Homo sapiens: one gene and its partner. The protein of the gene in region 2 purifies or fractionates together with the protein of the main gene of each other region. This does not show direct contact. Each region holds a gene or a part of one and is shown on either strand. Other genes may lie near its edges.

Evidence for each region. The genes of interacting proteins can lie anywhere in the genome.
Region 1: the proteins of PNISR (region 2) and EPB41L1 purify together in Homo sapiens (co-immunoprecipitation; one large-scale study listed by IntAct). This does not show direct contact.

Annotation. Positions count from the first base shown.
Region 1 is NC_000020.11:36,185,701-36,190,437, forward strand, and holds part of EPB41L1 (band 4.1-like protein 1), read left to right. Parts: intron 1-1,975; coding exon 1,976-2,063; intron 2,064-2,646; coding exon 2,647-2,799; intron 2,800-4,576; coding exon 4,577-4,674; intron 4,675-4,737. UniProt on the Homo sapiens protein: May function to confer stability and plasticity to neuronal membrane via multiple interactions, including the spectrin-actin-based cytoskeleton, integral membrane channels and membrane-associated guanylate kinases.
Region 2 is NC_000006.12:99,407,020-99,412,619, forward strand, and holds part of PNISR (arginine/serine-rich protein PNISR), read right to left. Parts: coding exon 5,532-5,600; intron 5,300-5,531; coding exon of another isoform or gene 5,295-5,299; exon of another isoform or gene 3,946-5,294; coding exon 3,722-3,945; coding exon of another isoform or gene 3,698-3,721; exon of another isoform or gene 2,327-3,697; intron 2,326-2,326; coding exon 2,154-2,325; intron 1,253-2,153; coding exon 1,062-1,252; intron 1-1,061.

The sequences.
Region 1 (4,737 bases), on a different chromosome or scaffold from region 2:
AGCCAGCCTGCTAGGGTTCCTATACTGGCTCTGCCACTTTCTAACTAGAGGATCTCAGGAAGGTCATTTCACTTCCTATGCTTTGGTTTCCTCATCTGTTCAAGGTGGATGCTGTTAAACCCACCCTGTAGGATTGTTGGGAAGCCTAAATAGCACATATTAAAGGCACACTGCATGTTGGCTGTTAGTGTTGCTGTCTGTGGATCGAGGGGTTGAACAGTTGATCATGCAGGGGAAAGTACCTCGTTCCAGCAGTTGGACGATAATTAACTAGTGTGATTGTAGGCTGGTTATTTAACCTATCTAAGCCCCATTTTTCACCTGTATATGCACAAAGTTAGATTATCAGTGTCTCTCAACTATTGGCATTTGGGGCAGGAGAATTCATTGTGCAGAATGTTCAGCATCCCTGGGACCCAGTAAATGCCCATAACACCTTCTCAGTCCTTGTAACAACCCAGATACTCCCCTTTGCCATTGCTTCTGTACAGGTTCCCCTGGAGAGGAGCCCTTGGAACTAAATGATTTGTAGGGTCCTTTTAAGCTGGAAGTATTTGGGGCTGTAAGTCCAGGATTGTTATGGGGACTCAATATAATTAATAATGTGAAGGTGCATTATAAACTGTAAAGTGCGGCACCCAGGGAAAGGAGTATGGTGATATTGTCTCATTACTATTGAGGATGGAGGGAATTAGGAGGCCTTGGTTCTGTGGGCGTTATCTGGAGAGGAGGGCTAGAGTCAGATGTGGAGGGATCGTGTACGTGGGGAAGAGCCTGCTGGGGTGTGATGAATGCTAGGTCAAGGGTGGCAAATGCTGTCTCTGAGAGTCGCACACTAACTCCACTTGGTTAATAGCGACTGCTGTGGTGTTGTGTTGAGTAGGACACTGATTCCCTACAATGCCCAGGTTAGCAATATCCACCTGGGCATAGGAATAGGGAGTAGTGGCCTGCCTGCCATCTATTTGTCATCCCTGTCCTAGATAGCAAGACATCTTAGGATTTGCAAGAGTCATAATAATTCAGAGAAAGATGTTCAGATCAATATGGGCTGGAGAAATACTAAGGGCTGTCCCTAAAGCTCTTTGGACCTAAAGCACACTGACATCTCGTGTCCAAGTATCCCACACAGCAGCCCAGAGGTAGACAGGTCACAGGAAACTGAGGCCTGGAGGATACACAAGACCTGTAATGAAGTGATTAGGAGCATAAACTCTGAAGTCACATTGTCTAGATTCAAATTCTGACTCTTCTTCATAGCAGTGTGACCTTGGACAAGTTACTCAATGTCTCTGTGCCGGTTTTTTCATCTGTAAAATGACAATAATAATAATACCTATCTTACAGAGTTGTTATGAGGATTCAGTGAGTTAATATGTGTAAAGTGCTTAGAACAGTAACCAGCACATAGTACTCAATAAATGTTTGCTGTGACTAAGTATAAAATGTAGTCCAAGTTTCCTGGCAGCCAAAGCAAAGAAGGAACTTGATTAATTACATAACTCTTCTTTTTGGAAAGGAGAATGTGCACCTGTTCCTTAGGAGAGATTAAGTGGCTTCTGATACTAAATTCTGCAAGAAATATCCTGTGTGGGTAATAATTTAGGAGCCCCTGGGTGATGATAATGAACAATGTCCGTAACAATGGTTTTACAGTCATGGAAAAGTAGAATTTATAGCTCACAGTCAACTCAGTGGCAGAATGAGGCAAAAATCCTGACTCCCAGCTCAGCCTTTGTATGATCCCTGGACTAACAAGACTGGACTTGAGCTTTGGCAGAAGTTGGGGGTTGGGTGGGCTGAAGTGGGAGTTGGGGTACACCCTCCTGCTCTGAGGGCAGAGGGAAAAGATTAGGGTGAGGCTCAGCATATTTGACTTTCTAGAATCATGGGTTCTGATGGTGGGCACCTTTGGACAGCAGGACTAAACCTGGGCCTTTCCCTTGGTCACCTGTGATCACTTTCTTTCCCTCAGGGGGATGACCCCGGGAGAAGCAGAAATCCACTTCTTAGAGAATGCCAAGAAGCTTTCCATGTACGGAGTAGACCTGCACCATGCCAAGGTACCACCAGCTTCCTGGGTTCCCCTAGTGTCTGGGTGGTGCCCCCAAAGAACTATCAGGCCTTTCCCTAGGGCGTGGTGTGCCAGACCCTGTGTTACCTCCAACTTGAAACCTTTTCTGTTCTCATTCTCATTTCTCGAAGTTCCATAACCTTTTATTTTCTCATGATCTGTATTATTTTCTCCATGTATTTTATTTATGAACCTGTTTGAGCCACTGCTAGATTGGGAGCATTGTGAGGGAAAGACGTAGGCCTTAGTTTATTTCTATATCCCTAGCACCTGGCACATAGCCTGGCACCAAGTGTGTGCCACTAAATATTTGCTGGATGAATGAACGATTGAGTGATTGACAGAGCAAATGATCAAACAAGTGAGTGGGTGAAAAAAATACCTAAATGGATGAGTGAATGACTGAATGACTATGGGAGGGATTGGTCAGTGGGACTCCAGCATGGAGGCTCTAACCCTGTTCCTGAGAGCTCGTTACAAGCAGCGCACAGGGCAGTGTTTTCGGGGTGGGTGGTAGGCTGTCCCCAGGCATGGACCCCGGGCCTCCCATTCCATGGTCTCTTCTCATGCAGGACTCTGAGGGCATCGACATCATGTTAGGCGTTTGTGCCAATGGCCTGCTCATCTACCGGGACCGGCTGAGAATCAACCGCTTTGCCTGGCCCAAGATCCTCAAGATCTCCTACAAGAGGAGTAACTTCTATATCAAGATCCGGCCTGGGGAGGTGAGTCTGCCTTGGGAAACACTCCTCCTCACCGGAATCAACTAGAATGGAGTGGACCCTGGCAGCTGGGCCTGGACTGCCAACACACACACACACACACACACACACACACACACACACACACACACACACACACACACACAGAGAGAGAGAGAGAGAGAGAGAGAGAGGAGTCTAAATAAAAGTATAACCACATATGGCCAGGTGCAGTGGCTCATGCCTGTAATTCCAGCACTTTAGAAGGCCGAGGAAGGTGGATCACATGAGGTCAGGAGTGTGAGACCAGCCTGGCCAACATGGTGAAACCCCGTCTCTACTAAAAATACAAAATTAGCTGGCACTGCACTCCAGCCTGGGCAACAGAGCAAGACTCTGTCTCAAAAAAAAAAAAAAGGGAGAAAAAAAAAAGAAGAAATATAACTACATACATTCAGGTCACACAGATAAATGAATACATGTCTGTGTAAAGTTCATGTATTTAGGTGTTGTAAGTATGGAAGTTTGTACACATTTTAAGATACACAGACTCGACTATACATACAACACACACAAATGCAAACATGTATATGTCTACACCTCTTTTCCTTCAATTACCTACATCTCACCCATCAAAAAGCCCATTTGGTTGTACCTGTAGAATAAACATGAACCCATTTGCTTCTCTTCCTCTCCATCACACCCGCCTCCAGCATCCCCCATCTTTTGCCTGTGCCTATGAGGGCCTTCTCCCTCGCCTCTGGTGCTCTCCAGGTCATTTTCCTCATAGCTGCTGGAGAGATCTTAAAAAGTCCCTTAAATCAGATCATGGCAAGCCCACTCCCCCTTCCCATCCACACCCTTGCTTACACCTTTCAGGAACTCTCTTTAGCTCTTGAGCTAAACTTCAAACTCCTTCCATGGCCACCTACCTCTCCCACCTATCCCTTGCCACACTGCCCCATGCCCAAGGTGCTTTAGCCTCTTCGGCCTTGAGATCTTTGAATAAGTCGAGCTCTTTCCTGCCTGAGTGCTTCGCATTTGATGTTTCCTTTACCTGAAAGTATCTCCCCCTCTCGCTTCTCACATAGCTGGTTCCTTCCCATTCTTCAAATGTCAGCTCAAGATCACCTAGATCTAGGTCTAGAGGGGATCCCCTGCTCTTCCTTAGATGACAGGAGCCCCTATGCCTTCCCAGTTCTGCTGCACCACACATCTCCCTTCATTCCCCTTGTAGCCCTGATCAGTGTCTGCAATTATCTTGTTTGCTTATTTGTTATTGGAGGTCCCCTTCCCCTACTAGAATCTTCTGCCTTGGTCTCCATGTATCTCTAGTGTTTAGCACTGGACCCGTCACAGAGTAAGGGCTCAATCACCCTTATTGATTCAGTGAATGAACAGGCCAAAGTCGCAGATGCCTGAGAAGAGTTCAGAAAGAATGACTCACGTCTGTAATCCCAGCATTTTGGGAGGCTGAGGTGGGAGGACTGCTTGAGCCCAGGAGTTGGAGACCAGCCTAGGCAACATAGTGAGACTCATTCTCTACAAAAAATTAGCTGGTGTGGTGTCGTCTGACTGTAGTCCTGGCTACTTGGGAGGCTGAGGCAGGAGGATCTCTTGAGCCCAGGAATTCAAGGTTACAGTGAGCTATGATTGCGCCACTGTACTCCACCCTGGGCAAATGATCGAGACCCTGTGTCTCAAAAAAACATTAAACAAATAAAATAAAAAACACAAAGAATGGGCTAGTGGCGAGAGTGAGCTCAGGCCCTGCCTCTAACCTGCCCTTTTGGTTTTCCAGTATGAGCAATTTGAGAGCACAATTGGCTTTAAGCTCCCAAACCACCGGTCAGCCAAGAGACTGTGGAAGGTCTGCATCGAGCATCATACATTCTTCCGGTGAGCCTGACCTTGGATGGGGTAATGGGGATGGGGCAGAGGCCATGTGTATGGAGGGGAGCA
Region 2 (5,600 bases):
GATTTTTTTTTAAAAAAAGACTGGACAGAGTGGCTAATGTCTGTAATCCCAGCACTTTGGGGGGCCGAGGTGGGAGAATCATTTGAAGCCAGGAGTTCAAGACCAGCCTGGGCAACACGGTGAAACCCCGTCTCTACGAAAAATACAAAAATTAGGTGGGAGTCGTGGTGTGCGCCTGTAGCCCTAGCTACTTGGAAGGCTGAGGTGAGAGGATTGCTTGAGTCCAGGAGTTCAAGGCTACGCTGAGCTATGATTGTGCAACTGCACTCCAGCCTGGGCAACAGAGTGAGACCCTGATCCCCCAACTGCCTAAAAAGACAAAAAAAAAAAAAAAGAGTAACCTTTAGCAGTGTCTTTCTGTTGCTTCTTATTTTTGTTATTTAACATCTAGAATAAAAACACAGATTTTGCATAGATCTTTTGGGAAAAATAAAAGTAATTTATGGAATTGAAGCAAAACTAATACCTGCCAAAATCTAGTTATTTTGCTCTTCTTGAGACTTATTTCTAAAGCAGAAAATGGCCGTGCAAGACAGACAAATTTCCTGAGTTGCATACTGGCCAGTGCTGTGGCTATCATACCTGCTGAATAAAAAAGTTCCTAAACCACTCAAGCCATCTAACTGAGGAAGATTTGAAGACTTAAAATGTTGTTATACTTCCAGTGCTCACGTCAAAAACAATCAAAATTATTACATCCTCAGGTATATGTTTAAATGTTCAAAAGAGGGAGATTTTATTTCTCTATTACTATTTTAATGTAGCTTTGTTTTATAATCTATCACCAGGGAGTCATCTGTACCACAATGAATGAATACAGATTGTTTATCAAGATCTAGCCAGCTCTCTGGAATGAAGTGTTTATAAACTTGTTGTCCCATTTTCTCCTTACTGTATCTTCAGTAACACATATATAAAATCAGAATCCTCAATATACTTAATGAACGTAATCTTAGGAACATCACTCTAATACTTTCCTATAGGCTAAAATATCTATTTCAGTAAAGTTTTCACACAACCAAGATTTTCACATGGAGTTTCATGTTGGGGATTCTACTTACAAATTTACTTCTCTGAGGTAAACGAGGGCCATCCCCTCCTTCAGCATCTTCTGTGGCCTTTTTTTCTTTTTTGGACAATTGTGAACGTTGTTGTTCCATTCTTTCTTTCTCCAATTTCTTCTGCTTTTCACGTTCCATTTTTTCAAGACCTTCGCGAATCCAAGCGGGAAGAGTCCTGCGTTTTACTGCGTCTGTTTCACGTGGGAAAAATATACGCAAGTCAGTTAAGTAAAATATTTCTACAAACTTGTGAGTAAATTTAAAAAATATCCCATTAAATATCATGCCTTTCTTCAATGCCATCACTTTTAGTAACAGCAGGGACCACTGCTCTAGTGCTTACAATCTGCCAGGACACAATGAAAGCATGTTAAACCATCATCTAATTTAATCCTTACAAAAGCCCTCAGAGATCACTACTATTACTCCACTTTTTTCCACAGGTGAGGAAACTGAGACTCGAAAAAATTAAGTGATTTGCTAGTAAGTTAAAAAAGGAGTAAAGTTAGAATCTTCCTAAAATGTAAAAAGTAAAGATTTATTAACAAATGCTCCTGTCCATTAAATACTGAACAATTTAGAACTTTCCAGATATAAAGTGGCATAAATATGTATTTGTCACTTGAAATAGGCTGGCTCTATAATGTTATTTAAAAAATTGAAATTTTCTGCCAAAATACTTAAGGGAAGTGAAATAACCAGAGGAAAATTAATCTGACAGCAGTGCATCAGATGAACTAAGAGTGGACAGAGATTGAACAATTAGATTTAAAAGGAGAAGGGCTCATATATCTGTATAATGTACTGAAATGCCTACACTGAAGAAAATACCAACATGCTATGGCTAGCATAAATTTTCACTTCATCACAAAATCTGGAATTTAATGTAAAGGTTTAAATAAAATTATTTAAACCTTTTAATTTCAGACCAGTATCATTTTTGTAATTTTAAGCTTTATGACCATAAAAAATAAAGTGTCAATTCCTAACACATCAGAGATACTCAAACAATTTTAAGAAAACAAGACATCCTTTTTATATGATAAAAAAGTCATGCCAATTGTGGTCCACTAAACTAAGTTAAATAGCTACCAATTTGTGGAGGCTCCTGCTTCACAGGAAGTGCAATAGGTGAACGCTGACGATCCCTGAATGATGATGGCCTTTCTCTTCGATTCTGGGGAGGTGCTGGAGGTCCTGGAGGTCCTGGTTGCCAATAAGGAGGATGAAATCCACCTTGCGGTGGACCAAAAGCAGCCCCATGCTGAAAGAGTATTGCAGTTTATTTTTTCTTCAAATTAATACAATATACTCTCTGGGACACACGTGTGTTATGAACTGGGACAGTAGAAATCCATGTGTGCAGCACATCCAAGAATTCCATGGCTCTAATATCCACCGATACTTCTATGGTCCCAAGAACCTAGGCTTACTTGTCTTAAGATTTTCCGGCTATGTAAATGCAAAGAGGCTTCTAAAAGCCAGCTGATAAGCTACTTTCAAGAAGTATATGAAATTTTTCATTCTGAATCCATTTACAAGCTAATCCTACCAACACTAAGACATCAAATAGATACTAATTTCTCTTTAACTAGACATTTTTGTCAATTTCAACATCCTACTTACAGTGAACAAAAAGTGAACTAAACAACTTAAGCTGTTTCTATAATCTTGCAGATATATTCATTTATAAGCAAAGATAGAAGTTAATGAATCATTAAATATTTTCTGCAATTTTGCTATTTTCAGAGGCTTTTCTAGGCCAGCTGCCAATACAGCTCTTTGTCTTGTTTACATGGGATCTACCATGCAAAAGTAGGGTAAGCAGATGCTCCCTGCCATTATATTTCTTCAAACAACATAAAAACTGTTGTATCTGTATACCAAGTATACAAGTATCTGAATATTTATTAATGAGAGGATTACCATCTCAAGGTGAATACTAGATGTCCATTATCAAATCTACCCTAGAATTCATGAAATAATTCTTTCAAAATTTTAAATTATGATAGCAGTTTATAAGTTAATAATTGCAATCAGTTATTTCAAAATGACACCTAGCACTATAATTTAAGGGTAGACCCTGGCAGAGGGAATGAAGTAAATAAAGCCCAACATACAACACTATTCCCCACAGAGTTCTATGTCCCTAGGAATGAATTGGATGCTACAGAGGAAATTATATACAATTCCATTAACATGTCATGTCAGAATGGAAAAAAAATGACACTAGAAAAACAGTCATAATTCTACATAGCACAAGGAATTACACTTAGGAAAATGATCTATATTTTTTATTCATGTCTTAACCATGAGCTATATTCAATTACTGTGCATTCTCTAGTCTTTAACATTTAAATATACCATTTTGAAATATAAATTAGAAAATAAAACATCATATAGCTATTGCACTTATACATTTTTAATTTTTTCAAAAGTTTTCCGTAATGATCTTTTATACCATTTTCCTAATGAAATAAAAAAATCAGAAAACAAATTCTAATTATTTTAATACTCAAAAATTGATAACTGAGACAGAATGTGCTTATTTATACAAGTCTGAAAAGTGAAACACGTATCTTAGGTATTCTTGATGAGACACTTCCAAAGAATGGATTACGTGCACATCTACAATATTAAAGCAACAAAATATCTTTCACCTGATAGTCAAACTGGTTCACTGGCCCCACTGCAAAATTATCGGGTGGTCCACCAAAGTTGTGATTGTTCTGGTTAAATATATGCCTGTTGTCAGGGGCAAATTCCCCACTGTCCTGACTGTTGCTGTCTTCAGAAGGAGGAACAATGTCCATTGGGCCTGGTGTTGGTGGCATCCATGGCTGATCTGGAGGGGGGTGTGGGGGTTGCTGATGCATTCCCCATTCTATTTAAGATTTAGGCATAAAAACATTCAACAGGCGGTTATAACAAAATCAACACAGAATTTTAAGATCTCAAGAAAGATTTTTCAGTAAACATACAGATTTAAAAAACAACTTATGACTTCTTGGTCAAATTCCTTTTGTTTATCTTAAAAATAAGCAATGAACTAAACTGTCATATATAATTCAAAATGAGCTAACTCCACTCTAATTCATATCCTAACCAAATGCCCAAAGTTATTTTTAACAAATGTAACAAAATCCAAAGCACTATTTTTGTTGAATTTTTATATTTGTTTAGTAACAACACCACAAAAATAATACCTTGAGGTTTTATATAATTTCTTTCTTACACGAACACATTTATCCTCACAACATCCCTGTGAGGTAGGGAGAAATTAGGTATTATTTTTGCCAATTTCGGGAGGGAAAATCGAGGCACACAGAGGTAAATCACTTGCCCAGGGTCACAAAGTAGAGTAAAACTAAGGGGTAGGGATGCCCGCGGGAGTCATTTAAGAACTTAAACTTAGGAACTAAAACATTTTCAAATGTGGGGAAATTTCACTTTCAAGAAAGCTAGAAATGAACCACCTCACAGTATCAAAGACTAGAATATTTATGTTTTTAAAAGTAATCTGAATTCTCGTTTTTTTTGTTTGTTTGTTTTAAATGAGGGACTCATTCTGTCACCCAGGCTGGAGTGCAGTGGCGTGATCACAGCTCATTGCAGTCTCAATCCCCTAGGCTCAAGCAATCCTCCCACCTCAGCCTCCCAAGTAGCTGGGACTACAGGCATGCGCCTCTATGCCTGACTAAGTTTTAAGGTTTTTTTTTTTTTTTTTTTTGTAGAGACAGGGCCTTGCTATGTTGCCCAGGCTGGTCTCGACTGAGGTCTCCATTCTTATAAGGAGAAACAAAAAGTATTAATAGGGAAAGGAGGTTATGACTTCACCATCAGCATACCCAAATGAGAGGCTGATTCCTCCATAGTTTCAAGTGACTATTAAAAAGGAATAACACAAGCCATGGAAGACTGAATTAGCATCAAGAAATCTACATCATACTGTGAAATAAAACAAACAAAAAAGTAAAACACACAAAAACTTATGAAAGATCTTCACTATCTGAAAAAAAAAAAGGGAAGAAAAAGGTAGGCGGATGGTAGGGGCAGAGTATATTTGACAGACTAATTTGTCACACAGTGACACAATTTTTCTTTAATTAGAGGCTAGACATGTTTTACTCTGCCAGTGCTGCTTCTGAAAAGGCCAGAGGTTGCAATAGAGAGACAAAGAATGCTCTCTTCCCTAGATGCCAAGTGAGGTTTCCAGAGTGTTCCCAGCCCCTGTCAGCCTAGGAATGAAGAACCAAGAAAAGAATCAAACTGAGTGCCACAAAGCTAGCAGAATGAGTACAGAATAATTTTAACCACAAAATGTCAAAGTCAAATCAAATTGAAAACTGCCTATTCTTTAAGAAGCATTAATTTCCAGAAGTCATACAACTAAGCAAATTAAAAAATTTAATAATAATCTTCATTCTGTTTTTTAAAAGTCTTAAAATTGTGAAAACATAAACAACAAACCTGGTTGCCACATTCTGTTGAAGTTTGAATCCCCTTGGAAATTCCCATGATTGTTTGGACCAGATTCCA